Homo sapiens: one gene and its partners. The protein of the gene in region 4 interacts with the protein of the main gene of each other region in a pairwise test. Each region holds a gene or a part of one and is shown on either strand. Other genes may lie near its edges.

Region 1 (7,030 bases), on a different chromosome or scaffold from region 4:
AAGGAACATCTGCTGCATATCTGAGAAAAGGGAAGGAAGATTGGATCTGTGCCACCCGGGTCTGCAGTCTCAAACCTTGAGATCCAGAATAAGGGAAGGGAAGGAGACTAACAAATGGTCCAGAAAATAAAATGAGGACAAACAGTCTGTTAGAACAAAGCTGTATTTTTCTTTATTGCAGAGCCCACATGACTGGGCAAGTCGGGTGGTAATGTCTACAACCAGCAAGGGCTGGATGCAGGGGGAGGCAGGTGGTGACCAGCCAGTGGCAAGAGTACTTCCCAGAGCTTGGACACTCCCTCTGGTGCCTGACTCTCCATGTGGGACCCGGTTTCTCACACATTTCTTAAGCATTTATGGGGCAGCTGCTATGAGGCAATTTTGTTCTGAGTACTCTGGAGGCAGAGATGAATAAGACATAATCCCTGTGCTTAAAGAGCTAGCCTAAAATGGGGAAGATAGACAAATGAACAACAGATCACAACATCACAATGAAAAATTCTACATCCTATGAAAAATTCTATATCCTAGGTAGGGAAGAAATGTCACAAAAATACATAGAAGTGGAAAGATGTATTCCTAATCCTATGAAGAGAAGTGGTGGTTCAAGGAAAGGAACATCTGTACAGAGACAGTGTTACAAGCTGAGTCTGGAAGGATAAGTAGGAATATTAGAAAACAAGGTTTTTTTCCTCCTTATCAATGAGGGGTAGTATAAAACAGCAAACCTTCATAATTGACTCAAAAAATTTAATCCTCCAAACCTTAAACCCACCCACCACCCCTCTCAATTTCAAGGCATCAACATTTATATCAAAGAAATGTATCAACCAACTGGGTTCTGCCACTTTTCAATGTTACCTACAGAGTCACTAGTAAGGTTATCAAACTCTCATCAGAGTGAGATAAGAGGGTTAGCCTAATCATAACTTTCTGATTTGCTATGGTGGAGCAATGATGAGTGGCCAGTTGTCTGACTTTAACTTTTCTTAATTATCTAACTTTAACATCATCAAAATATTTGTATGTAAGATCACAATAGCAAATGCAATAAATTCTTAGAGTTAGGAGTGTATCTGCAAACTATCAGGTATGAATGAACCTCTACTCCACCATAAGGGATACAGAAATAAAAGACATGACCTTTCTGTCAAAGAAGCTGAAACCTAATTGCAATGACTGGAATGTTTAAAATGACTAACTATAATTTTTTAATCTCTTTTCTATAATTCTGACATGGCAAATATTTAACATTTAAATGAGAAAAGAGTAAGGACAATGCTATGCTTTATTGCTCAGTAAATGTTTGCTTTCTTCATTTTTCAATGCAGTCTACAAATAAGTATAAAACTTTTTATCATTTGCTTTATATTAGTCATAGTATATACTGAGATGCGAAAATAGTTGGTATAATCCCTGACTTTGCAATTATATTTTATCTTCATTTTAATAAATTTTATTTTTTAAAATATCCATTGGTGATATGGAAATAACTGTGGGAAAAGACTCAAACACACCTTTTTTTCTATCATCACATTTTCTTTCAACCTCAAAGAAAAGCCTTCCTCAATTTTAAAAACTCATTCAGAGAGAATTTTTTGAAGTTTTTTTTTAACCAATAAATAGCAAGCTATGAGATCAAATTAAATATTTGGAATATTTTTAGCTTGATTTAACTCACCCAAAACTCTTAAGATTATTATAAGCATGTAATGGTTATGTTTAGTTTACGGTTAGTTTCTTAAATGGAGTTTAAAGACATTGCAATTTTTAATTTTTAAATAGGACTATTATATATGGTAGATGTATTGGTCAGGGTTCTCTAGAGGGACAGAAATAATAGGATAGATGTTTATATGAAGGGAGTTTATTAAGGATAATTGATTCACACCACATGATCACACAGTAAAGTCCCACATAGGCCCTCTGCAAGTTGAGGAGCAAGGAAGCCAGTGGTGGATCAGTCTGAGTCCCAAAACCTCAGAAGTAGGGAAGCCAACAGTCCAGCCTTCAGTCTGTGGCCAAAGGCCTGACAGCCCCTGGCAAACTACTGGTGTAAGTCCAAGAGTCCAAAAGCCAAAGAACTTGGAGTCTGATATTTGAGGGCAGAAAGCATCCAGCACAGAAGAAAGATGAAGGCCAGAAGACTCAGCAAGTCTGCTCTTCCATCTTCTCCTGCCTGCTTTATTCTAGCCATTCTGGCAGCTGTAGTAGTTGGTACCCACCCAGATTGAGGGTGGGTCTGCCCCTCCTAGTCCACTGACTCAAATGTTAATCTCCTTTGGCAACACCCTCACAGACACACCCAAGGACGATACTTTGCATCCTTCAATCCAATCAAGTTTACACTCAATATTAACCATCTCAGTAGATAAGAAAATTTCCTGTGTTGTTCACCTGTAATGAATGAGCTTAAAAAGAGGCTGATGATTGAAACTTTTTACTATTTCAAATTGAGAAAGAAATGAGATTTTCTATGCTATTACATTATTCTTCTATTAGAAAAACTTCCAAAGTAAACTATATCAGGAGGCCATAGTCCAATTCTTCCTAAATTAAAGTTGATAGAAGCACAGAATATTTTTGAGTTGGAATGTATGCCAGAGTTACTTAGTGATTTATAAGTGGGAAAACTGAGAACCAGGAAGGTTAGATACCTAAATCTTACTTGTTTGGGTTTATAACTATGCCCTAAGCTTCTTCAGCATATCAGGATCCGTGGTATTGTGTTATCACCCTCAGTCGTTTTGTGTTTTGTCTTTTCAGCCATAAAAAAATTTTGTTTAGGGACAGAGACAAATAAATCTTTTCCTTGGCTGAACTTGAATGTACCATTTCCACTCAAGATTCTAGAAAATCAGATTTCACTGGCTGGTCCCATGATCTGAAAGAGTGGCCCTGTCACCATCTTATTCCACACCAACCTGGTTTTTGTTGTTGGTTCTCCCTGAGACTTTAGGGAGACAAGCACAGCAGGTGGTACCATCCACAGCTCACCCATCTACCTTGAGTAAGCTTGGCAAGTACACTTATTCAGTCTGCAGTGACCTCTGCAGTGACCCTGGGGCTGTTTCAGTGAATGCTGCTTTTGTGGCTCAGGTGTTGTCCTAGAAGTTAATTGTCAATGAGCCTCAGGTAAAGTTACTGAAGGAAAGACATAAGCAGATTTAGTAAACCATTTAAATACTCCAATCCTAACATTTTCTGAATTTTAAATAACTACACATAATTTTCTTTGTCTTCAGCATAATACGGATCAAGCATAATAAATACATCAAGAGTGAATTAAGCCAATTGCTGAAACATGGTTGCATTTTGTTGGTAATAGTGAAAATATATGATGGCGTGGTCAACATTCAAATGAGACATAGAACAAACCCTGAGTTAGTCACATTCTGATCTTCCCCCTCCGCCACCGGATATTTATTTTTTCTTTTCTACAGATGTCTATTTTGCAACTCTGCTGGTTTTGTCCTTTTTCTTAATCTTGAGGCAGGTATATTGGGAGGCAAGATATTCCAGTCATTTCTGCAGCTTTTTTATTCATCTCCTGGTGGGTGGATGAGAGTGATGCTGTAGCCTCCAGGGCTCGACAGATCTTTTCCCTTCTCTCCACCCTCTCTCTCTAGGATCAATCTGGGATTGATGGGTACATGGTAAAAGAAAAAAAAAAAATCCTGGGTATTTTTTTCTACCATACTTCTAATTGCATTTGTTTTGTCACCCTTAGGACTACCAAGAAGCCTCCAATTTGGAACAATTCGTAACTAGATTTTTATTGAAGGAAACCCTGAATCAGCTGCAGTCTCTCCAGAATTCCCTGGAATGTGCCATGGAAACTACTGAGGAGCAAACCCGTCAAGAAAGGCAATTTACATGTTTTCATCTGATGTCTATTTAGTGACTCTATGTTCATGAAAAAACAATTGAGAGGCATTGTACTTACACTAGCAAAAACTAAAAAAGAGAATTGATATATTTAAAAAGAATGACAGTGACCTCCACTGGTTGCTTGCCTTATTATTTGCCTCTAAAAAGACCATTCTACTTTTTCTTTTACTGTCAGTCATTTAGTAAACTATATATATATATATATATATATATATATATGTGTGTGTGTGCGTGTATATATATGTCTGTGTGTATATATATACACACACACACATATATGTGTATGTGTGTATATATATACACACACACATATGTGTGTGTGTGTATATATATACATATATGTGTGTGTGTATATATATATATTTCTTTTTTTTTGAGATGGAGTCTCACTTTGTCACCCAGGCTTGAGTGCAGTGGCACGATCTTGGCTCACTGCAAACTCTGCCTCCCGGGTTCAAGCAATTCTTGTGCCTCAGCCTCCCAAATAGGTGGGATTACAGGCACACACCACCACGTCCAGCTAATTTATTGTATTTTTTAGAAGAGACGGGGTTTCACTATGTTGATCAGGCTGGTCTTGAACTCCTAACCTCAGATGATCCACCCATCTTGGCCTCCCAAAGTGCTGGGATTACAGGTGTAAGCCACTGAGCCCAGCTGAGTCAACAAATTTTAATTGAAAATTTAGTAGATGGAGAAGACTTTAAAGTATTATGAATAATATAAAGATACATTTAACATAATGTCAATCCTTAAGGAAGCCTAAGTCTATCATATAAATAAGACATGAACACAAAAACTATACTGCAAAGAACAAAGTGATAATAAATACCGTAGAGAAGAGGAAATACATTGCCAATTGTTTTCAGAATATTAAAAGATTAAATATGGATAGAGGGATGGAAGGATGAGAAAGTCAATTTCATGGAGTTTCTCTATTTGAGCTTGTCTTGCAAAATCAAGAGATCAGTGAAAAAGCCTGGTGGGAAGACAAGACTTGAACTGGACCTGTAGGATGAATTTGAATGGCAGAATGAGAGTCTCTCTAGAGGGATCCGTCTCACCCACCTCCTGTTACCCACCTCTCATGTGGCTCACTTCTCTTTGGTTGTCTGGTCACTGATTGGACAGTAATTTCTCTGGGAAGCCTTCACTGCTCATTCATACCTCCCACTTCACTACCGTGTATTCCTATAGTGCCCCCTATTTATATCTACTTATCTCAACCCCTTCCTTGTTAATTTGGTGTAATTTTGAAAATGTGGAAATGATGGGAAAGACCCTTACAGACTACATGAACCTGGATATACTTGGGAGACCTGATAATTCAGTAAGCCTAATTATTTCAGGAAATGGAGAAAAGTGAATGATGGAAATTATTTCAAAATTCAATGCCACCAATAGGTATCACTGAGAAAATAAGTAGTCATATTGCAATAGCTATATAAATAAAGGCACTAATGCTTAAGAGACACCTATACTAAAAATGTGTAGGGCACACATCAAGGTGATCCCAGCCAACAGTTGATATTTTTCTGAGTTGTCATTGCTTATACTTTGCAAGCTAGAGAAGCTTGCAAAACTCTTGCTCCTGGGGCATATTTTGGCAGATGTGTTACTTTAAACTTATAGATGTGCTTTATCTAACTTTTACATCTTAAATTAGAGAGAAGGAAACAGTAAGTTTTCTGAACAGGCTGATAATAGACTACCCTGCAGGACCAATTTTCCTGAACAAATTAACTGATACATAATTATTAGGACATCTCCAAAATAGTGGAATTTTCAACCATGTGTTTACAATGTCAAAATGAGTGAGCACCACCAACTTCTAACAAAAAATCCTGTAATTCCAGAATCTAATGAGCCCATGCAGCTGACTGTCACAGGGAAGTACTCTTTAGCAGATCTGTGAAGCATCCTCTACATCATAAACTTCCTGTTTTCACTGCGTTGGGTGATTCTATACCAAATGGCAAAGTATAACAATTCACTTTAGAAAAGCAAAACCCACCTCCTCAGCTTTGAGCAGAGGATAACTGAATGTCTTGAAGCACAGTGAAATGGATTTCATGTTCCTAATGAGAAAAATGAGGCCTCCTGTGTTGTTTCTTTTGTTTGGACTTTCTGGAAATAAAATGGGAACTCCCTTTTTAGAATCAGTCATCTGCCACCTGAGAAGAGGCTTGAAAAAGTGCTCTACTCCCCTTCTTCACCTGCGCTTTTGTTTTTTTCTACAGTCATCCCCTGAAAACCTGTGCTCTGCATTTACCACCATGCTGTGAATGTTTAATGAACAACTGTTTTCTGTGTTAGGCCACAGGCTAGCCTTGAACTCTTGTGACTGCTGCCAGCAGCTGCCTAGCAGCTGTGCTTAATGAGAAGGAGCATGACAATATAGACTTTAAGGAAAGTAGAAGGCACTAGAGGATTAACGAACCTTTTACTTCTGGATTTCTCACTCAAAAACAGCTTCAAATAATGGGAAATGTTACATGTCTGACTGCAGTTTAAGGGGTGCTGTTGTATGGCATTTGACTAAGACACCCAGGAATGACAAAATCCCACCCCAAATCTGTGATATTCCCCCTGAGAGGTTTATAAAGAAATGCATAAACAAGCAAACAGAAAATAAGGTACCACTATGGATTTATGCCCGTAATATCTGATGAACCAGACTGAAGCACGTGAATTATGCCCAAACCTAAAGGGACTGTGTCTCCTCTCCCAAGGCTATATCTTCCTATCAGCTGGCCACCAAAAGTGAGGAGAGCCCTGGGACCTTCATCAGTGAGGAAAAGATAGAGAGAGAAAAACTATACCTTTCCTATGATGTCAATCAAGAGACCAGTGAAAACGCCTGATGGGAAGACAAGACTTGAAGTGGAACTTTAGGATGAATTTTAATGGCAGAATGAGATTCTCTCTAGAGGGATCCGTCTCACCCATCTCATGTTACCCATCTCTCATCTGGCTCACTTCTCCTCGTCTGTCTTGTCACTGATTGGACAGTACTTTCTCTGGGAAGCCTTCACTGCTCATTTATACTTCCCACCTCATTACCATGTATTCCCATAGTGCCCTCTATTTATATCTACTTATCTCAGCCCCTTCCTTGTTTATCTCCCCCATTAGACAT
Region 2 (7,450 bases), on a different chromosome or scaffold from region 4:
TTTCAAAGCAGCTTTGGGAGGGTGCTAAGTCACAGTGGTGGGGACAGGAGGAGGCCAGGCTGGGATGGCAGGGCCTGGGGAGGGGACCCTGTTGGGGCGGCTGCACTCACGATCTGGGGGTCGGTGGCCACGCCGCTGCTGTAGGTGGTGGTGAGGGTGGAGGCGCAGGCTTCGCTGTACCAGGGCACGCGGCCCTGCTGGGTGGTGCTGCCCACGGAAAGCGTGTGGATGCTGTTGGTGTAGCCGTCGCAGTTGCAGTTGTCGTAGTGCAGGCCGCCGTTGCCCGAGGCCCAGATGAAGAGCGTGCCCAGCCCGCCGCGGCCCTGGGAAACCAGGAGGGGCGGGGAGGGGGCGTCGGCCTGGCCTGCCACCCCTGCCCTCCTCGGGCTGCCACTCACCTTGGTCACACCACGCCGGAAGGCCTCGCGGGTGAGGATGCCGGGGCCGTCCACCGTGCGGCCGTCGTCCTCGGGACCCCAGCTGGCGCTGTAAATGTGGATGTGCTGCGGCTGCAGGCTCAGCGACTGGGCCTCGATGACATCGGTGATGGTACCGTCCAGCATCCGTACGCCTGCAGAGCCAGGGCGGGAGGGCCGCTGCCACCGGCCCTGCCCTTCCCCACACCCCAGCCCGCCCCGCGCCACTCCACACCACTCCCCAGCCCTACCTGGGCCCTCTCTCTGCTCCCTGGAGTGGGACCATTCGTATTGGCTCAGCACCCCCCAAGCCCTGGAGTCTGGGGCCCTAGCACCACCCAGCAGTGAGAGGGTGGGCTCCCGAGTCCTTGGGCCCAGCTCCCCGCCAGAGTCACCCCCTTCCCTCTCTGTCCCGGAATGGTGCCGCTGGGGGACCCCGGGTACCTCCGATTCGGGCGTTGAAAGCGACCCCCACACCACAGAAGCCATTGTTGGCCATCGCGGCCACCTCCCCAGCACAGCGGGTCCCGTGCCTGGTGCCAGGGCCAAGAGGGGCTCCTGTCACGGCCTCCATCCCCCTGCCGGGTACTGGGGCTTCCCCCGTGTGCTGTGGGAGCCCTGCTCACCGGTTCTCTTTGCTGGGGGTGTAGCGGGGCTGGGGGTCCGGGTCGTAGTCATTGAAGTCATAGCTGGCCAGGGGGTCCTGGGGGCAGGTGGGGATATGAGGGGGCCGGGAGGCGTCCCTAGGGTGGTGCCAGCCTCGGCACCTGGGGCAGCCCTCGCCCACAGCCACCCGCGGTCTCACGTAGTTGGCCCAGAGGTCCGGGTGGTCCTTCTCGATGCCATCGTCCAGCACAGAGACCACGATGCCCTGGCCTGACAGCCCCTGACTCCAGGCCTGCAGGATGCTCAGGTCTGGTTGGGCCTCGCTGTTCTGCAGGGGGAGGCGGGGTTGTGACCCTGTGAGGGCCTGGAGTTGAGGGCGCCAGCGGCCCCGTCCCCGTCTACCCACCCTGGCTGCCTGCTCACCATGTACCACTGCTTGGAGAACCAGGGGTCCGTGGGCACCACGACAGAGCGTTTCACCCGCCGCTGCAGCGTCTGCTGCTGGAACCACTGCACCTGCAGAGCAGAGGGTGCATCAGGCCTGTCCCCTGCTCGCCCCTGGGGCCCCTCGTGGTTCAGGGAGTGAGGCAGCCCCGTGCCCTGGGACCCTGTGTTTGTGGGGGTTGCTCTCCAGGGTCCCCATGTGCCTGGGGCTCTGTCTGCAGTCGGAAGGGGTCGAGGCTTTTGGACCACCTGTCCTTGGGCCCACAGACGCGTCGTTGCTGCCGCGGGTGACTGCAGGTCCCCGGGTCCCCACCCCACTCTCTCCCCCATCCCTGTTCTAGATCCTTCTATCTCTCTCCTGCATCACTTCCTTATTTTTTTTCTTTTTTTGAGACAGAGTCTTGTTCTGTCGCCCAGGCTGGGGTGCAGTGGCGCAATCTTGGCTCACTGCAACCTCTGCCTCCTGGGTTCAAGCGATTCTCCTACCTCAGCCTCCCAAGTAGCTGGGACTACAGGCGCACACCACCATGCCCGGCTAATTTTTGTACATTTAGTAGAGATGGGGTTTCGCCATGTTGATCAGGCTGGTCTCGAACTCCTGAGCTTAAGTGATCTGCCTGCCTTGGCCTCCCGAAGTGCCGGGATTACAGGCATGAACCACCACGCCAGGCCTGGCTTCTCTCTTGCAAACCACATCAGGAACTGGCCACTGCTCTCCCTCCCGGTGCTGTAAGCAGGCAGCTGTCCAGTCCTGTTCAAGGCACTTCCTGGCCTCCGAGGGCTTCCCAGGCTCCATCCCAACCCCTCAGCTTGACATCCCAGGCATTTTCTAGACAGGGCCCAGCCCGATGGGACCCAGGCCCCTTTCTGAGCGCCTGGACACTGCGTCCTGAGGGCCACTGGGTGACTGTAAGCCTCCTACTTTTTTTTTTTTTTTTTTTGAGACGGAGTCTCGCTCTGTCGCCCAGGCTGGAGTGCAATGGCGCGATCTCGGCTCACTGCAAGCTCCGCCTCCCGGGTTCACACCATTCTCCTGCCTAAGCCTCCTGAATAGCTGGGACTACAGGCGCCTGCCACCATGCCCGGCTAATTTTTTTGTATTTTCAGTAGAGACAGGGTTTCACCGTGTTCGCTAGGATCTCGTCTCGATTTCCTGACCTTGTGATCCGACCGCCTCCGCCTCCCAAAGTGCTGGGATTACAGGCGTGAGCCACCGCGCCGGGCCAAGCCTCCTACTCTTTGGAACCCATTACGGTGTCGTAAAATCCCCTTCCCTCCATCCCATGACCTAGACGGTGGGGAAGTCACGCCGTCTGTCCCTCCTTACCAGAGCCCCTGGGGCCCAGAGGAGGGAGGGGGAGGACAAGAGGTGCCCACTGTGTACCAGGCCCTGGCAGGCGCCATGATTTCCGTATCTGGGTCTTCCTGCCTCCTCTTGCTGTATAGACTTGGGGCCCGGGCGGGTCTGAGCCACAGAAAGCACACAGCTGTTCATAACAACCACGAGAACCACAGAAGATGGCTGGTGGCCCCAGGAGGCAGCTGAGACCCCGGGCAGGGGGTTGGCCTCCAGGCCAGGCTCACCTTGGGGTTTTTCTTCAGGTGCAGGCGGTGGCCCCAGTGCGGGGTCAGGGACTGCTGGACCACGCCCCGGTGCCGCAGGTGAAAGTACTGCCCGTCAGGGAAGATCTGGGGATGTGGGGAAGCGGCCGCACCGATGGGACCCGGCTCCCCTGCTGAAGCCCCCGAGGGCCGGTAACAGCCCCCTTCTTTGTCCTTCCCCAGCAGGTGCTCTCTGGGAGTCCCAGAAGCTGAGCTTGGCTGAGGCAGGGGTGGGCTGGGACTCTTGATATTTAGAAGACCTTGTGGGCTCCCTCCCCCTTGTCGGGGTCTAGGGTTGTTCAGTCCCCTCCAAGCCCCCACTTCCCGTCTATCCCGGTCCCACCCACCGGCCCCAGGTTGACGAAGCCGAATTTGCGTGCCAGGCGCTCGACCTCCCGGTTACCCTGGGACACCTGGACGGCCCAGCTGCTGACATAGATGGGGGCTCGGACCGGGGCCCACCCCACAGCCCGGGGGCGGACAAGGGCCAGGGCCAAGACCAGGCGCAGCCACAGCGCAATCGGGGCGGGCCGCATGGAGGCGGGGCGGGAGCGGGGCCTGCGCAAATCCCCTCCCTCCCGCCAAACCGCCGAGTGGGCCCAGGCGTCCGACCCGCCCCCGGCGCCATAGCAACGCAGAAGGCTTCGACTCCCAGGGGGCCTTGCGGCTACTCAGCCAGGAGGGGCGCGAAGATCTAACAGAAGCGGGAGAGGGACGCACGCCTGCCCGTCTTCCGCAGACCCACACCCTCGGGAGCCTCAGTTTTCCCATTTGTACAACGACAAGACTAACCCAGAGAAGCGGGTTCACTGTTGCGATAACGCGTCCTACCCTTTGTTTGACCTCTCCCACTTTCCAACACACCCCTCCTTCGAGAATCAGCCCGGCCTCCTGTCCGGCCTAATCAGAATCATTCTTTTGCGTAATCCCGCCTCCTCCGATAAGCCTCGCCCCGTTCCCGCCCCTACCATTCCGCCCTGCCTCCTTTGTGATCAGCCCCGCCCTCCACTGGTCTCGCCAATGAATCGCGTCCCGTTTCTCCAATCGGCTCGGATGTTTCTTTAGCCCCTCCCCCCGGTTCCGCCCCCCCACGCCTCTCCTCGCCCTGGCTCCACCCTTCAGCCAATAATCCCATCCTCTGACACCGCCCTTCCAATCAGCTACGTCTCGCTCCGGCCCGGCCAATCGGTGCCCTGGGCCGCCGCGCCCCGCCCTCTCCCGGCGGGGTCTGGGCAGCGGCGGCCGTGGCGGAGGGCTATGCGGCGGGGGAGACGGGGCAGGCCCCTCCTCCTTTGTCCGCCCTGCCCTCCCATTGGTCCTAGCGGGGGGCCGGGGGCGGACACCGGCGCGGGGCCGGAGCATCGCGGCTCAGGCTGCGGGAAAGCGGTGCGCGTGCAGCGGGGTGGGTGCCCTGGTCCGCGGGCGAGCTCGAGCAGCCAACCCCGGGCGCGTCGGGGCCATGGACGGCCTGAGGCAGCGCGTGGAGCACTTCCTGGAGCAAAGGAACCTGGTCACCGAAGTGCTGGGGGCGCTGGAGGCCAAGACCGGGGTGGAGAAGCGGTATCTGGCTGCAGGTGAGCCGTCGGCGCTAGCCCGTTTCGCCGACGGGCACACCGAGGCCATGGGCCTGGGGGTCGCAGACCGGACTCCTTCCCCGGCTACGGGGTCCGGTCCGGCCGGTGGAGCGCGCGAGGTGACTGGGACCTCGAGGTCCGCCCGCAGCCCTTCCCTTGCCCGCGCCCTGCGACCCTGCTCCCGGGCCACCCCTCTCTAGCTTCCGCCCCTGGCCGCCCCCCGACGCCTCCTTCCGGGCGCTGGGTGCCTGCCATGCCGAAGTCCGGTTCTTCCAGTTGCCCAGTGGCCCCAGAGGGGTCGGGATGCCAGTGTCCTGCGCGTTTCGCCGTCCCCCTTCCCCCGTGGACCCCGGCCTGGCTGCAACAGTAGAGATCTTCCCGTTTTTCTGAGGGGAGGCTCCTGGCGGGAAGGGGAACGGACCGTCCTGGGGGCCTGCCCAGGACCCTTCTCCTTTCCTCCTCCTCTCCTGCCCTAGCTCACCTTCCCCCAGCTCAATGGCTTAGTGCCACCGAGCGTAAATGTTTGTTAAGACGGAGTTGGGTTGTCTGACGGCTGTGATGTGGGGAGGCTGGACTGGGGCCCACAGAGCCGGAGATCCAGGCACCCCGATTGTGACTCCATTACAGTTCTTCCGTGACTTTCACCCTTGGTGACGCTGCGCGCCCCTTCCCCTTTCCAAATCTCTAGCAAGAGCATGTAGTAAACGCTCCTTAAATGCCTCCCTCCCCACCTTTAAAACTTTTTTTTGAGACCGAGTCTTGCTCTGCTGCCCAGGCTGGAGTGCAGTGGTGTGATCTTGGCTCACTGCAACCTCCACCTCCTGGGTTCAAGCGATTCTCCTGCCTCAGTCTACCAAGTAGCTGGGATTACAGGTACCCACCACCATGCCCGGCTAACTTTTGTATTTTTAGCCGTTCAACATGGTGAAACGGGGTTTCACCATGTTGGCCAGGCTGGTCTTGAACTCCTGGCCTCAGGTGATCTGCCCACCTCGGCCTCCCAAACTGCTGGGATTACAGGCATGAGCCACCTTGCCTGGCCTAAAACTTTTTAAAATTAACTTTTTTAAGAGACAGGGTCTCACTATGTTACCCAGACTAGTCTTAAACTTCTGGGCTCAAGCGATCCTCCTGCCTCAGCCTCCCAAAGCTCTGGGATTACAGGTGGAAGCCACTGCACCCAGCCTTTCTTCCGTTTGTGTGGTGCTCCCAGCCCCACTGGCTCTGCCTTCTCTTCCAGGAAGCTCCGCAGAATGACTCACAAGGACTTGCTCTGGGCCTGGGGTATTCTGGGTAGAGGACAGTGCCACTTTTTTGAGCACCTTCTGCAGGTGGATCCCAGGAGTCCAGTTCCCCCCCAATTTTCCCACCATCTGGGGGTTCCCATGCCAGGCAGCGCCAGAACAGTCTGAAGTCTGTGCCCACACCCTGGAGGTCCCCAGGTGCCTGGTCCCATGTGCAGCGCAGCAGGTGGCATGGGCATGGCCCGGCTGTGCCTGCCCCCGGGAGCAGGTCCCTGACCTCTGCCCTCCCTTTCCACATCCCTGGGGCTAGTGGGCAGGAATTTAGGTCGTAGAGCGCCCAGGAGGCAGGCAGCAGGGAGGGGCTGCCTGGGGCACCGTGTCACCAGAGACGAAACTGAGGCACAGGGAGGCAGGGGCTGCCTCTGTGCCTGTTCTGTCTGAAGCATACAGTCCTCCACCCTGCCCACCCCCAGTCCCATCTGCTGCTAATCTTGGGGGCTGGGCCTCCCTCCACAGTTCTGATGTCCAAGGTCATCCTCCCGTCGCTGAAGCTGCAGGAAAAGGGATTTAGGGGAGGGACGCCCTGGGAGAGTCATTCCTCCCCACGAGCCAGGCCCGGGGAGAGATGGCAGTCCCTCATCCCCATCTCCCACCTCCTTTAAATTGACAAATCCCACACCCCTGGGTAACATACGAAGAAACTCAGAGGGGACAGTGACTGGGAGGCCACTCCTGGGACCAGCTGGGGGACTCCTCCTACCCCTGACCTTGGGTGCTTTTGGATAAAGACTAAAGCAGGTGGGAGGGGCTGGGGGGACTTGGGCCTCTGCCCTTTGGTCCAGAAGTGGCCTCTATCTCACTCTGCAGATAGCAGCCCCAGGGGAGGAGGAAGAAGGCTGTCCAAGCTCTCTGGAGCACATAGGTTCCCTGTGTGACCTTGGGCAACACCCACCCACCCCCAGTTTTGGCTGTTGAATAATTCAGGAAAAGCACAAAACCTGGCACACAATAGGCGCTTAATAAATGCAGCTGTCGTAGTCATTCTTTTCAGAGCCAGGTTCAGGATTGGGGCTGAGCTGGACACACACACACACACACACACACGTTTTTCTCTGAACACCCTCCTTGCTGGGACTGTGTTATAGTTGCCTGAAGGCACTTAATAAATGTGCAGAAAGGCTGATGGCGGTGGCTCACGCCTGTAATCCCAGCAGTTTGGGAGGCCAAGGCGGGCGGATCACCTGAGGTCAGGAGTTTGAGACCAGCCTGGCCAACATGGTGAAACCCCGTCTCTACTAAAAATACAAAAATCAGCTGGGCATGGTGGTACGCTCAGCTACTCAGGAGGTTGAGGCAGGAGAATCACTTGAGCCTGGGAGGCGAGCTTGTAGTGACCTGAGATTGCGCCACTGCACTCCAGCCTGGGTGACAGAGCAAGACTCCATCTCGAAAATAAATAGAAATAAACGTGCAGAAAGGCGTTCTCTCTGTTAACTTGTAACCATAGGAGGCAGGGGCCATTACTACTCCCACTTACCAAGGGGGAAACTGAGGCTCCATGCAG
Region 3 (7,521 bases), on a different chromosome or scaffold from region 4:
CCTTAATCCTGGCCAGAGATGCTAGATCCCCTGAGAAGCAGGGGACAGCCTGGTACAATGAAGACTCTCTGCCCACCCCGCACAGCCTCAAATATCTGTATGTGCTCTTCAGGTAGGCAAAAAGCCAGTTTATGATTGTCTGAGTCTGGAAATCCATTTTGTAAGTAATCGTAAAGTAGTTTTTGTAAAGTTTTAATATATGCTGAATTTTCCAGCAATGCAACTTCTTGTTAACCAAAGAAAGATCAAACTTTATTTTGTTTAGAACTCCCCTAAGAGTCGCTCACCATTTCAGAAAATTATGGTCACAGGCAACAATATGGTATTTGTGTCCTCAAAATCAATCTGCATTTTTGTTCTCACTATCATAGTGATTCCACTTAGAGGTACAAACATCTAGCCATTTTATCTCATCTTCTAATATAGTTGTACCCAAGCATATGCATAGTGAGCACATTTACACATTTAATTTACAATAAATAGATATTACTACAAATTAACTTTGATTTTCTTTCACCTTTGTTAGATTAGACTAGTCATTTTTCTTAGGTATAAGAACGAATAAATTATATTATGTAAGAATTTCACTTTAAAGTAACAAAAAGCATGTTACATAATATTTACTATAATGAGACTAATATAGTAAATATTTACTATATTTACTATTGCTGCTGTGACAAAATATGACAAATTTAGAGACTTTAAAGAACATAAATTTATTATCTTACAGTTCTGGTGGTCAGAAGCCAGAAATGGACTTTACATGGCTGAAATCAAGGTCCGCAGGGCTGTGTTCCCTCTGGAGGTTCTAGGGTAAGAATCTGTTCCCTGGCCTTTTCCAGTTTCTTGGCTCATGGCCGCTTCTTCCATCTTTAAAGTCAGCAACACAGCCCCTTCAATATCTCTCTGACTCTGACCCTCTTGGTTGCATTGTCGCATCTCCTCTGACCCTGGCCCTCCTGCCTTCCTCCTATAAGGATCCTCATGATTACATTGGTCCTACCAGGATAATCTAGGATAATCTTCTCATCTCAAGATCCTTAACTTGATCACATTCACAAAGTCCCTTTTGCCATATAAGGTAACATATTCACAGATCTAAGCATTAGAATCTGCACATCTTTGGGGCCTGTTATTCTGTCTACCACCCTTTAATAATATAATAACCATTGTTCTGATAAGGTTGAGGCCCACAGGTATAATTAAAGTCCTGGGCTTCCTCTCTCCATATGGTCTTGGGGCTGGTAAATTTCTTCCTTGTCCGTGGCTTGGGCTGAACCTGCTCCAAGAGTGCCTAGTCTAGGGAACAAGCTCATCTGAGCCAGGCTGAGCCCCTGGCCCCTGAGGGCAGACAAGTTATTGCAAGACCCTGAGTTGCCAGGCAATGTGGATACAGGGTATTCATTGGGAGTCAACCTGGATTGAAAAAAACCTTTTTTTTTTTTTTTTTTTGAGATGGAGTATCGCTCTGTCACCCAGGCTAGAGTGCAGTGGCATGATCTCGGCTCACTGCAACCTCCGCCTCCTGGGTTCAAGTGATTCTCCTGCCTCAGCCTCCTGAGTAGCTGGGACTACAGGCGTGTGCCACTACGCCCAGCTAATTTTTGTATTTTTAGTAGAGACGCGGTTTCACCATGTTAGGCAGGATGGTTTCAATCTCCTGGCCTCGTGATCTGCCTGCCTTGGCCTCTCAAAGTGCTGGGATTACAGGGAAAAAACCTTTTTAATATTTCCTCTCCTCTCCTCTCCTTTCCTGAAAACCCCTCCCCTCCCCTTCACTTCGCTTTCCTTCCCTTCCCTCCCCTCCCCTCCCTTCCCTTCCCTCCCTTCCCCTCCCTTCCCCTCCCCTTCCCTCTTTTTTCCTGAGACAAGAGCTTGCTCTGCTACTCCTCCCCTCCCCTCCCCTCCCCTCCCCTCCCCCCCTCCCCTCCCCTCCCCCCTCCCCTCCCCTCCCCCCCTCCCCTCCCCTCCCCCCCCCCCCTTCCCTCTTTTTTTTCTGAGACAAGATCTTGCTCTGTCACCCAGGCTGGAATGCAGTGGCATGATCATGGCTCCCTGCAACCTCTGCCTCATGAGCTCAAGTGGTCCTCCCACCTCAGCCTCCTGAGTAGATGAGACTACAGGCATGCGCCACCATGCCTGGTTTATTTTTTGTATTTTTGGTAGAGACAGGGTTTCACCATGTTGCCCAGGCTAGTCTCAAACCCCTGGGCTCAAGTGATTCACCCGCCTCGGCCTCCCAAAGTGCTGGGATTACAGGCATGAGCCACTGCGCCTGGCCTTCTTTCTCTTTTTTTTTTTTTTTTTTTTTTTGAGACGGAGTCTTGCTCTGTTGCCCAGGCTGGAGTGCAGTGGCGTGATCTTGGCTCACTGCAAGCTCTGCCTCCCCGGTTTACGCCATTCTCCTGCCTCAGCCTCCCAGTAGCTGGGACCACAGGCGCCGGCCACCACGCCCAGCTAATTTTTTGTATTTTTAGTAGAGACGGAGTTTCACCGTGTTAGCCAGGATGGTCTCGATCTCCTGACCTTGTGATCCACCTGCCTCGCCTCCCAAAGTGCTGGGATTACAGGCGTGAGCCACTGTGCCCGGCCTCTTTCTCTTTTTTTAACTCTCTGTTTTGTAGAATTGTTTTTCCCCTTGGGAGCATGCAGTGTTTACTTTTTGAGGCACCTAACTTTACATGTCTTAAGTTATTTTGCTCTTCAGTGTACATCAGAAGCTGCAGAGATATTCTCTTGCTGTCATGGCTATGTATTCTTACCTAAAAATCAGGATATATGATCAGACAATGAACTTTCAACATGCTTCCAAGAGTCGAAGGTGTTTTGGGAGATTCAATTGGTTGAAGACATGTTAAAATTTCTGGTACATCGTGATAGTTTAGGGAGGATAATGTGACAGAGTAAATAAAATAGAATAGCTATCACTTAATGAGTACTTTATGAAGTGCTAAGTGCTGTGTTATCCCCTTTTACATATTATCTAACTCTCACAATCCAGTGAGGTAGAAATTATCACCCTTGTTTCACAGGTTCCATCTCAAGTGGTAGTAGCAGGCTTAGAATTCAAACTCAGATTCATCTGACTCAGAAACCATACACTCAGAAAAATCCAGGAAATGCCCCTGCCCACTGCCCCCCACCCCCGCCGTCACCCCCACCCCCAACCCCCACCAGGAAATAGATGCATCCCAGGAACTAAAAATCTTACATGGAAGTCAAGCCAGAGCTCCAGATCTGCAAGTGTATTTCTTTTAAACCTCAGTAAAAGCTGCCTGATAGCCAAGAACAGTGGCATTTAGTTCAACGGGGATTTTAGATTCGTCTTTCCAGTGTCCTCACTCCTGAGTAAGAAGAAGGACAGAGCACGTTGGTATTTTCCTGGCAGCAGACACATGTTAAAGGAAATTTGATAGAAAGATAGAGATGGGGGTTGCTATTTTTATAGCCTGCCTTGTCTGTATCCAGCCTGCCTCCAGCATACCAGCATCACCAGCAGTGCTAAGAACAGGGAATTCCATGCTGTGGAGTAGGGGGTGCTGTAAGAGCCCCAGGTGATACTGGAGAGGAAAAATGCCCCCTTGGAGCCTAAATAGTACTGTTACGTATATGCCAAGGGCTCAGTTTAGCTTCTTCTTATTATTTATTTATTTATTTATTTATTTATTTATTAATTTTTTGTTGAGACGGGGTCCCACTCTGTCGCCCAGGCTGGAGTGCAATGGCGCGATCTCGGCTCACTGCAACCTCTGCCTCCCAGGTTCAAGCAATTCTCCTGCCTCAGCCTCCTCAGTAGCTGGGATTACAGGCGCCCGCCACCACGCCCAGCTAATTTTTGTATTTTTGGTAGAGACGGGGTTTCACCATGTTGGTCAGGCTGGTCTTGAACTCCTGACCTCAGATGATCCATGTGCCTCGGCCTCCCAAGGTGGGGATTACAGGCGTGAGCCACCGTGCCCAGCCCTCAGTTTAGCTTCTGCTGCTAAACAGTCCACCCTTGGGAGAGAGACTGAAAAGGGTGGGGCGAGGGCCCATCTCACTTGAGAAAGTGCAAGCCTGACAGCTGAAGGGTCCCAGAGCAGCAAATATCACCTTGTTTCTATGGGACCATTCCAGCTGTCTGCTTTTGATTGACAGAGGCATCTGGCTGCTAAAAATACCCTCCTGACCAAATGTTCCCTACTCCAACTAAAGCCGAACAGGATTGTTGCAGTTCAGAACTTAGCACATACAGATAGCTTCTGCTTGCAATGGAACCTCTCAAAACTTTTCAGGCCCTATGCCATATTAACCCATGGTCATTTTCTGTTCTGTCGGCTTTGCTGGGTGATGAATGAAACTCTTCCCAGTTCACTTGTTCTCTTGTCTGTCCCATCCCCACCTCCAGGAAAAGTAGCAGAGGGGGAGGTGAGGGCCCAGTAGCTGAGAGCGAGTAGGGAAGGGGAGGTGGCTTGTCCATTTATAGTCTTGCTCTTTGGGATGCTGAAGGTGCTGAAATAGCAATGACAAGAGACTTGGCTCAGTGTTAAATAACTGCCGCGCTGGCCTGACAGTCTCTGAGATGACAATAGGGAGAATGGAGAACGTGGAGGTCTTCACCGCTGAGGGCAAAGGAAGGGGTCTGAAGGCCACCAAGGAGTTCTGGGCTGCAGATATCATCTTTGCTGAGCGGGCTTATTCCGCAGTGGTTTTTGACAGGTATGAAATGTGGGGAGTTGCCTTCTCTCCTGTTAGTTTGGCTGGGGCCAAACTCTAAAATACTTTGCTCTCAAAAATCATCAGGGGAAGGGATAAAATTCATGTGCTCTTTTTTCAACAAAATGGCACTTCTGAGAGCTAATTTTTCTGGCACAAATTTTTCTGCAAGGGATCATTGCCAGTGTGATTTGCTGTGGCTCCTAGAAGGGTGGTGAAGGTGAGCAAAGGCTTCGGGGGCACTTTCTCCCAATACTGGCCAACTTGGCTGAGAGGGTGTGCTGGGAGTGGAAAGGTGGGTGTGGTGCTGTGGGAAACATTTTCCGACAGAAAGCTCTATATTTTTAGCTTTCTTTTTATTATAAATACATTACCAGATAAAGTAATTGCTGAGACTTTAAAAATTATGAACTATTTGTATATTTATAATTATGAATAACCCAGGAATCCACTTTCCCTTGAAAAATCTGAGTATCACCCAATCCCAGTCCCCTCTGTCTTTCCTCAGATATTACCCCTGCTATTATTTCAATGTATTTCCTTCTAGAATGTTCCTGTGCTATTACATACATATATCTGCACTTAACAAGATGGATGGCTGTAGTCTGTCTGGTTTTTTTTTTTTTTTTACAGAAATGGTGTCATACTTCAGATGTCATTTTAGAACTCACTCTTTTCCCTAAACAACACGTTTTTGATGTCTATCCTTGCAGGAACTTTAAATCTATAGATACTTCTTTTAAATTCCAAAGATCTATTTCCTTTATAGAGCTATCCATATAGATTCATATGCCATATGAATCATCAATCTTAATTTTAAATATTTCATCCTATAAATATATGACATTTTATTTATCCATTCCCCTATTGAGAGACAATTGGTAGTTTTTAATTTTTCATGAAATAAAATGAAAATCCTTGATCGTGTCTACCTGTACATATGTTCGATTGTTCTCCAGGGCACAGGACTAGAAGAGGAATTGCTGGGCCGTAGGATGTGATGTTTTCAGTTTTATAGGCTCTCCAAACAGGCTCTATTAAATTTACATTCCCGCTTCCTCACGACCTTGGCCACACTAGACTACCAAGCTTTTAAATTAGTAATAAATCTTCATTTTAAACAAACCTACATGGTGATTACATTAAATTGTCAATATTTTCTGAGATCAAGGTTGGGGTGACCTGCTTGACATCTATGTGGTTTGAGTCTGATAACCTAGGCTTTGTGGTTGGCTGGCTGCACTGACCACCCTGGGAAAGGGCACTGCTTCCCACAGATAACTTGATTAGTATTCACATTCTCTTGTCTTCCTGCCCACTAAGACCTTCAGGGAAAAGGGTGTGAACTGGGGCATATGGCTCACCACCACTTGAGGAAAATAAGGGGCTGAGGTGACTTTTTCAGGGGGAGCTTGTCTTATTTCATTAATCTGTGTGTGTGTATGTGTATGTGTCAGGGGAGGGGTGAGTACAGTTAGGGAGCCAGCTGGATTCAGAGTGAAAACAACCCAGAAACACAGGGACTGTCAACACTAATTCTGGCGCTGCCAGTGAGTTACTGCCTGGCCTTGTGAAGAACATCTCCATTTGCTGCTTCCAATTCCCCAAAGTCAATCTAGCCAATCAGTTCCATTTCAAGAAGGTTAAAGTTGAATGGGCTTTCATTCCATTATAAAAGCAAGGCATTGTCATTTTAGAAAATTTAGAAAGATAAGACATCACACAGCGATAACCACTCTTAACATGTTGGGTATCTATTTTCGGTTTGTTTTAAAACATAGGTTTCATTTGGCTGTAATATACTCATTATACAAGCTATTATGCTTTTTCATTTAATAATTTTGACATCTTCTGTGCTATTATACACTCTTCAGAGACATAGTACTTAAGGGCTACGTCTTCTTCTATTACCTGCTGATGACTGGCCATTTGGATTGTTTCCATGTTTTTGTTATTATAAATAATTTGTCATTCATTTGAAGTAACAACTATAAAAACACCTTCATATACATTGCAGATAAATGCTACATAAAATCATATATTATTTTTACAATGGTAATAAAAGTGGGATAATTGGTATAAATGACGTTTAAAATGATTGAAAAAAAATCTAAAAGAGATAGTTTTTTTTTCAAAAAATGCTTTACCCAAACTTGTCACTGCATAGATGAGGGAGCTGTGCTTTCTTTGGTTATACCAGAGACAGCCCAAAGAGGCATTAAAGGAAAGTTTTATGCATTTTAGGCTCCTGGTGAGGCTCAGCCACCATAGATGAGAAACTTGATTGCAGAGGTGGGACTGAGTCACCCACAAAAGTCACTGTACAAAACTGGCTTGTTTTAATCCATCTTACTGCAAGACAGGCTTTCCTACTCTTCCACACAAATGTGGAGAAAGATTTTATTTTTAGTTGAGCACTGCATTAAATGAAAATTAATTCTTTCAAACAGTGTGTATTATATATTCTAACATATATATTATATGTTATATTGTATATATTCTAACATATATTATATAAAGCATAGCAATAAATCAACACCAAACCAACTTAACTAGAATATTCCAATATGTTACATCTTCTCTATCCTGTTGCATGCCTGCTCCAAAGGTAATTATCCTAGGTTTTGTGTTGTATATTCTACTGCCTTTTAAATAATAGTTTTGGCCGGGTGTGGTGGCTCATGTCTGTATTCCCAGCACTTTGGGAGAACCAGGCGGGCGGATCACCTGAAGTCAGGAGTTCAGGACTAGCCTGGCCAACATGGTGAAACTCTGTCTCTACAAAAATACGAAAATTAGCCAGGCATGATGGCAGGTGCTTGTAAT
Region 4 (7,030 bases):
AGGTAAATTGGAAAGGGAAATTAAACCTTATTGTTTCTCTCTTAAGAGAGAAGGGGGTGCAGGCGGCAGCCAGGGTGGATGCTGTTGGAATAGTTGTAGAAGTAACAAGATTAGTGCTGTATTTTAACAGAAGGTGACATCATGGGCCCCATTGGACTTGAGTAACCCCGTGCTGCAGCCTTCATGGTCCCCTTGTCGGAGTGGGTGATGTCGCTATACACGTGAACTGCCACATTGGGGAAAATCAGGGGCTGAGGCTTTAATGAATCTTTACAAAGGAGCAGAACGCATCCTGAGTCGACCTGTGCAGCTGTGGGGTGCTTGGACAGAAGTACAAACCGGATGGCATGTCAGGAGAGGAAGTAATTAGAACAATTGGCTCGGGTTCCAGAGTATGGATTGGATAAGGGGAAGGTCCCAACTGGGCAACCCACTCAGGTGCTCCTTGGAGTGCTCTAGCTCTATGATTCACCTGTGGGGAGTTGACTGGTTGTTAGTGAGACTGGGAGAAATGCAGAAGCATTGGTGTTTGTGGGGACTTGGTTGTCTCTAAACAGCCGGGAGGGGGTGCTGTTAGGCTCGCTTTCAAAGCTGTGATCTGGCAGGGCGTGGTGGCTCCCGCCTGTAATCCCAGCACTTTGGGAGGCCGAGGAGGGCGGATCACTTGAGGTCAGGAGTTCGAGACCAGCCTGACCAACATGGAGAAACCCCGTCTCTACTAAAAATACAAAATTAGCTGGGTGTGGTGGCACGTGCCTGTAATCCCAGCTACTCGGGAGACTGAGGCAGGAGAATTGCTTGAACCCAGGAGGCAGAGGTTGTGGTGAGCCGAGATTGTGCCATTGCACTCCAGCCTGGGCAACAAGAGTGAAACTCTGCCTCAAAAAAAAAAAAAAAATGCTGTGATGTGAGTGCTCACCAGACCCTGTTGTGCCTGCATTCTTCAAGGCAAAAGTTTTACATCTGGACCCGCCTGTTCTGGCTGCGTGTGACAAACTTTCTGTAGACTCCAACACGCTTTGGGGAGAGGTGGCCTAGTTGAGGGCCTGGTCTGAGAAGGGAGGCAAATCCCCCAGGGCCTTTTAGCTTGGCATTGAGCTAATGGGGATTTTTTTTTTGCTTCCTCTTAAGTTTTACAAGAACAAAAAGTGTTGCCTGGGTTTCCCCACGGGGGTCTATTAAAAACTTTCGGGGTTTTCCCTGGTAAAGAATGATAAGAACAGAGGCATACTAACCTTGATCCTGTATCCTCTGTCCCTCATCAGATGTTTCCTTCCAATGGGCTTTTGGTGTAGGATGTCGGAGAACCAAGAACAGGAGGTAAGAGTATGGTCTGCAGAGAACAGGTGGGTAAAAGTTGGAGAGGGGATTTAGGAGGAAAGAGGACATAGAGATGCAAATCATTAATTATTACCTGCAGTATTACTTTGGTGGTTCTGATGAGCTCAGAATAAAGTCAGGAGAAAGAAATCAACAGCAGAGGCATTCCTAGGAAATTGGGGTTCCATTCTGACTAAATTTTCCTTTGATTGGAATATACTGGAATGTAAGCTTCATGGGGGCAGGCACTTACGTCTCTTGTTCATGCTTTATCCCCAGTGCCTATAACAGTGTCTGACACGTAGTGGGGCTCAGTAAAAATTTGTTGAATTGAGTGACTGAATTGAGTGAATGAAAGTTGAATTGAATAAATGAAAGTTGGTGTTGAGTGAATGAAAGTTGGTGTTGGGTGGAAAAATCTAGCGACCTGTGTTGTCAGAGCTGCCTTGCTGTGTAGCTGAAGCTGAGGGAGCTTTTCTTACCTACAGGAGGTGATTACAGTGCGTGTTCAGGACCCCCGAGTGCAGAATGAGGGCTCCTGGAACTCTTATGTGGATTATAAGATATTCCTCCATGTGAGTACATCAAGCTTCTGTATTGGGGTCAGCGCTCTGCAGGGCTGAGGGGCTTGTACTGAGGTGTAACCTTTTTTTTTTTTTTTTGAGATGGAGTTTTGCTCTTGTTGCCCAGGCTGGAGTGCAGTGGTGTGATCTCGGCTTACTGCAACCTCCGCCTCCCAGGTTCAAGTGATTCTCCTGCCTCAGCCTCCCAAGTAGCTGGGATTACAGGCATGTGCCACCACGCCCAGCTAATTTTGAATATATATTTTTTTAGTAGAGATGGGGTTTCATCATGTTGGCCAGGCTGGTTTTGAACTCCTGACCTCAAGTGATCCACCCTCCTTGGCCTCCCAAAGTGCTGGGATTATAGGCGTGAGCCACCGTGCAGGTCAAGGTGTAACCTATTTTTGAGTGTTTCTGGTGGACCCGAGACAGAAGACTTAGAAGAAAGGGAGGGAGGAAAGGAAAGAGAGCTTGAGGTATGTCTTTGAGTTGCTTTTGGGCTGCCTGGTGGCACCTTGTTCTAGTTGGGGACCTGATCAGGTCTGTGGCCTGATGGCATGGCTCCTCAGTGAAAGCAATGATAGGGAGCTCATGTGAACTTGTCTATTTCCACTAAACCCTTTTCATGTACTTCATGTGCTTTCATGTATAGACCAACAGCAAAGCCTTTACTGCCAAGACTTCCTGTGTGCGGCGCCGCTACCGTGAGTTCGTGTGGCTGAGAAAGCAGCTACAGAGAAATGCTGGTTTGGTGTGAGTTTGCTCTTGCTTCCTTCTTGGGTCTGTGACTGGCTTTTTGGGTGCTTATGTAGGAACTGGAGTTGACAATGAAGAGAACTTGCAACATACCAGGCACTAAGGAAATTGGGAAATATGTTGTTTCTTTTTTTGTTTTTTGGGTTTTTTTTTTTTTTTGATGTAGGGTCTTGCTTTGTTACAGAGGCTGGAGTGCAGTGGTGCAATCATGGCTCACTGCAGCCTCAACCTCCTGGGTTCTAGCAATCCTCCCACCTCAGCTTCCCAAGTGGCTGGGACTACAGGTGCATGCCACCACACTTGCCTAATTTGGAAAATATTTTTGTAGAGATGGAGGTCTCCCTATGTTACTAGGGTGGTCTTGAACTCCTGGGCTCAAGCAGTCCTCCTGCCTTGGCCTTCCAAATTGTTGGGATTACAGGTGTGAGCCACCAGGCCCGGCTGGGAAATAATGTTTTTTTTTTTTTTGAGATGGAGTCTTGCTCTGTTGCCCAGGCTGGAGTGCAGTGGCATGATCTCATCTCACTGCAACCTCCACCTCCCAGGTTGAAGCAATTCTCTCTGCCTCAGCCTCCCAAGTAGCTGGGATTACAGGTGCCCACCACTATGCCTGCCTAATTTTTGTATTTTTAGTAGAGGTGGGGTTTGTCCATGTTGGCCAGGCTGGTCTCAAATTCCTGGACTCAAGTGATCCACCTGTCTCGGCCTCCCAAAGTGCTGGGATTACAGGCGTGAGCCACCACTCCTGGCTGGGAAATATGTTCTTTTTTTTTTTTTTTTGAGACTGAGTTTTGCTCTTGTTGCCTGGGTGCGATCTCGGCTCACCGCAACCTCCACCTCCCGGGTTCAAGAGGTTCTCCTGCCTCAGCCTCCTGAGTAGCTGGGATTACAGGCATGCGCCACCACTCCTGGCTAATTTTGTATTTTTAGTAGAGATGGGGTTTCTCCATGTTGGTCAGGCTGGTCTCGAACTCCTAACCTCAGGTGATCTGCCTGCCTTAGCCTCCCAAAGTTGCTAGGATTATAGGCGTGAGGCACCATGCCCAGGCCTTCTTTTTTTTTTTTTTTTTTGAGATGGAGTCTCGCTCTGTCGCCCAGGCTGGAGTGCAGTGGTACAATCTCGGCTTACTGCAACCTCCGCCTCCCGGGTTCAAGCAGTTCTCTGCCTCAGCCTCCCGAGTAGCTGGAATTACAGGGGGTTACCACCATGCCCAGCTAATGTTTTGTATTTTTAGTGGAGGTGGGGTTTTACCATCTTGGCCAGGCTGGGTTTTTTTTGCTTTTTTTTTTTTTTTTTGAGACAGAGTTTCACTTTGTTGCCCAGGCTGGAGTGCAGTGACACCCTCCACCTCCCAGGCTCAAGCAATTTTTGTGCCTCAGCCTTCCGAGTAGCTGGGATTACAGGCGCCTGCCACCACGCCTGGCTGACTATTTTGTATTTTAGTAGAGATGAGGTTTTACCACGTTGCCCAGGCTGGTGTCGAACTCCTGAGCTCAGGCAATCCACCCATCTCCACCTCCCAAAGTGCTAGGATTACAGGTGTGAGCCACTGCGCCCAGCCTGGGCAGGCTGGTCTTAAACTGACCTCATGATCCACCTGCCTTGGCCTTCCAAAGTGCTGGGATTACAGACGTGAGCCACCATGCTCCGCCTTTTTTCTTTTTTTTTTTTTTTGAGACGGAGTCTCACTCTGTTGCCCAGGCTGGAGTACAATGGTGTGATCTCGGCTCACTGCTACCTCAGCCTCCTGGGTTCAAGCGATTCTCCTGCCTCAGCTTCCCGAGTAGCTGGGATTACAGGTCCCTACCCCCACGCCCAGCTAATTTTTGTGTTTTTAGTAGTGACAGGGTTTTACCATGCTAGCCAGGCTGGTCTCGAACTCCCAACCTCAGGCAATCCGCCTGCCTCGGCCTCCCAAAGTGCTGGGATTACAGGCGTGAGCCACCGCACCCGGCCAGATATATGTTCTTAAATCATATTTTCAAGTCAGTGAAAAAAGTAGAATCTAATTTCGAGTATTTTTACCTAACAAAGCCATACTAACATCAAAAATATTTTTCTTTCTTTATATGCATATATGTCTAGAGCTCAACAAATATACAGCTAACATTTTAAACAGTTTAAATCTGCTTATCAGAAAATTTTAAGCACCTGGACTTATTTGACAGCTAGTGTTTCCATCCACTTCACATGTAAAAATAATGATTTTTTTTTCTCTTTTAATACAGAGGTCCTTTTCCAGAGACATATGAGAGCCTAGGGAAGGCAGTTATTATTTACTCCTCACACCCACCTGCCAAATAAGTCCTGAAAGTGGAGAGAATTACAACAGTGATTTTGCTGTAGGATGGTCACTGAATACTCAGTGGTGATAGGTGGCCTGTTGAGTGACCAAGTCAGTTAGTTAACATGTGGAACTGATGAGGCTGTTGTCCTGGGGCAGGCCCTAATAAACCAGGTGAAACTCCGTTCCCCTGACAAATCCTATATCCTCCAGCCTGGCCTGTTTTTTTTTTGTTTTGTTTTTCTTTTTCTTTCTTTTTTTTTTTTTTTGAGACAGAGCTTAGCTAAGTGAGCCTCTGCCGGTCGCGGTGGCTCACGCCCAGCACTTTGGGAGGCTGAGGCAGGTGGATCATGAGGTCAGGAGTTCAAGACCAGCCTGGCCAAGATGGTGAAACCCCATCTCTACTAAAAATACAAAAAACTAGCCGGGTGTGGTGGCAGGTGCCTGTAATCCCAGCTACTCAGGAGGCTGAGGCAGAGAATTGCTTGAACCTGGGAGGCAGAGGTTGCAGTGAGCTGAGATTGTGCCACTGCACTCCAGCCTGGTGACAGAGCGAGACTGTCTCAAAAACAACAACAACAACTACAAAAAAATGTGAGCCTCAGCAGCCTCAAACGCCTGGGGTCAAGGGATTCTCCCACTTCAGCCTCCCAAGTAGCTGGGACTACAGGTATGTGCCACCATGCTCAGCTAATTTTTGTATTTTTTGTAGAGAAAGGTCTCACTTTGTTGCCCAGGCTGGTCTCTCAAACTCCTTGGCCTCAAGTGATCCTCCTACCTCAGTCTCCCAAGTTGTTGGGATTACAGTTGTGAGCCACTGCGTCCCACTCCAGTTTCTTCCTTTTTAAAAATAATAGTTGATGGTGGGTGTGGATTTCTTTTTTCCTTTTTTTTTTTTTTTCTGAGGCGGAGTCTCGCTCTGTCACCCAGGCTAGAGTGTAGTGGTGCAATCTCGGCTCACTGCAACTCCCAGGTTCAAGGGATTCTTCTGCCTCAGCCTCCTGAGCAGTTGGGATTACAGGTGTACACCACCACGGCTGGCTAATTTTTGTATTTTTAGTAGAGTCGGGGTTTCACCATTTTGGTCAGGCTGGTCTCCAACTCCTGACCTCATGATCTACGTGCCTTGTCCTCCCAAAGTGCTGCTATTACAGGTGTGAGCCACTGCGCCCGGCCTTTTTTTTTTTTTTGAGATGGAGTCTTGCTCCTGTCTCATCCTGCAGGCTGGAGTGTTTGCAGTGGCACGATCTCGGCTCACTGCAACCTCCACCTCACAGGTTCAAGTGATTCTCCTTCCTCAGCCTCCTGAGTAGCTGGGATTACAGGGGTGCACCACCATGCCCTACTAATTTTCTTTTCTTTTCTCTTTTTTGTTTTTTTTTGAGATGGAGTTTCGCTCTTGTTGCCCAGGCTGGAGTGCAATGGCTTGATCTCAGCTCACCACAACCTCCGCCTCCCAGGTTTAAGTGATTCCCCTGCCTCAGCCTCCCGAGTAGCTGGGGATTACAGGCATGTGCCACCACGCCTGGCTAATTATGTATTTTTATTTTTATTTATTTATTTATTTAATTTTTTTTTTTTTGAGACAGAGTTTCACTCTTGTTGCCCAGGCTGGAGTGCAAGGGTACAATCTCAGCTCACTGCAAGCTCCGCCTCCCAGGTTCACGCCATTCTCCTGCCTCAGCCTCCCGAGTAGTTGGGACTACAGGCGCCCGCCACCACGCCCGGCTAGTTTTTTCTATTTTTTAGTTGAGATGGGGTTTCACCGTGTTAGCCAGGATGGTCTCGATTTTCTGACCTCGTGATCCCCACCCACCTCGGCCTCCCAAAGTGCTGGGATTACAGGCGTGAGCCACCGCGCCTGGCTGTTTTTTTTTTTTAAAGGAGAGATGAGGTTTCACCATGTCGCCCAAGCTGGTCTTGAACTCCTGAGCTCAAGTGATCTGCCCACCTCGGCCTCCCAAAGTGCCAGGATTACAGGCATGAACCATGGCACCAAGCTGGGAGTGGGTTTCATAAACAACATAGTGTGGCTCGGCTTGGTGGCTCACACATGTAATTCCAGTGCTTTGGGAGGTTAAGGAAGGAGGATCACTTGAGGCCAGG

Evidence for each region.
Region 1: the proteins of SNX11 (region 4) and NECAB1 interact in binary tests that used the Homo sapiens proteins (3 or more experiments, as listed by UniProt).
Region 2: the proteins of SNX11 (region 4) and REEP6 interact in binary tests that used the Homo sapiens proteins (3 or more experiments, as listed by UniProt).
Region 3: the proteins of SNX11 (region 4) and SMYD1 interact in binary tests that used the Homo sapiens proteins (3 or more experiments, as listed by UniProt).

Annotation. Positions count from the first base shown.
Region 1 is NC_000008.11:90,913,762-90,920,791, forward strand, and holds part of NECAB1 (N-terminal EF-hand calcium-binding protein 1), read left to right. Parts: intron 1-3,730; coding exon 3,731-3,867; intron 3,868-7,030.
Region 2 is NC_000019.10:1,486,743-1,494,192, forward strand, and holds the start of REEP6 (receptor expression-enhancing protein 6), read left to right. Parts: upstream 1-4,438; 5' UTR 4,439-4,527; coding exon 4,528-4,642; intron 4,643-7,450. Other genes in the region: PCSK4 (proprotein convertase subtilisin/kexin type 4), read right to left, coding at 111-323, 399-571, 861-949, 1,043-1,119, 1,222-1,350, 1,446-1,538, 2,851-2,931, 3,051-3,155 and 1 more. UniProt on the Homo sapiens protein: Required for correct function and survival of retinal photoreceptors. Required for retinal development.
Region 3 is NC_000002.12:88,063,304-88,070,824, forward strand, and holds the start of SMYD1 (histone-lysine N-methyltransferase SMYD1), read left to right. Parts: upstream 1-4,521; 5' UTR 4,522-4,561; coding exon 4,562-4,698; intron 4,699-7,521. UniProt on the Homo sapiens protein: Methylates histone H3 at 'Lys-4' (H3K4me), seems able to perform both mono-, di-, and trimethylation. Acts as a transcriptional repressor. Essential for cardiomyocyte differentiation and cardiac morphogenesis.
Region 4 is NC_000017.11:48,110,766-48,117,795, forward strand, and holds part of SNX11 (sorting nexin-11), read left to right. Parts: exon of another isoform or gene 1-2; intron 3-1,265; 5' UTR 1,266-1,278; coding exon 1,279-1,320; exon of another isoform or gene 1,321-1,328; coding exon of another isoform or gene 1,329-1,346; intron 1,347-1,808; coding exon 1,809-1,895; intron 1,896-2,535; coding exon 2,536-2,636; intron 2,637-7,030. UniProt on the Homo sapiens protein: Phosphoinositide-binding protein involved in protein sorting and membrane trafficking in endosomes. Regulates the levels of TRPV3 by promoting its trafficking from the cell membrane to lysosome for degradation.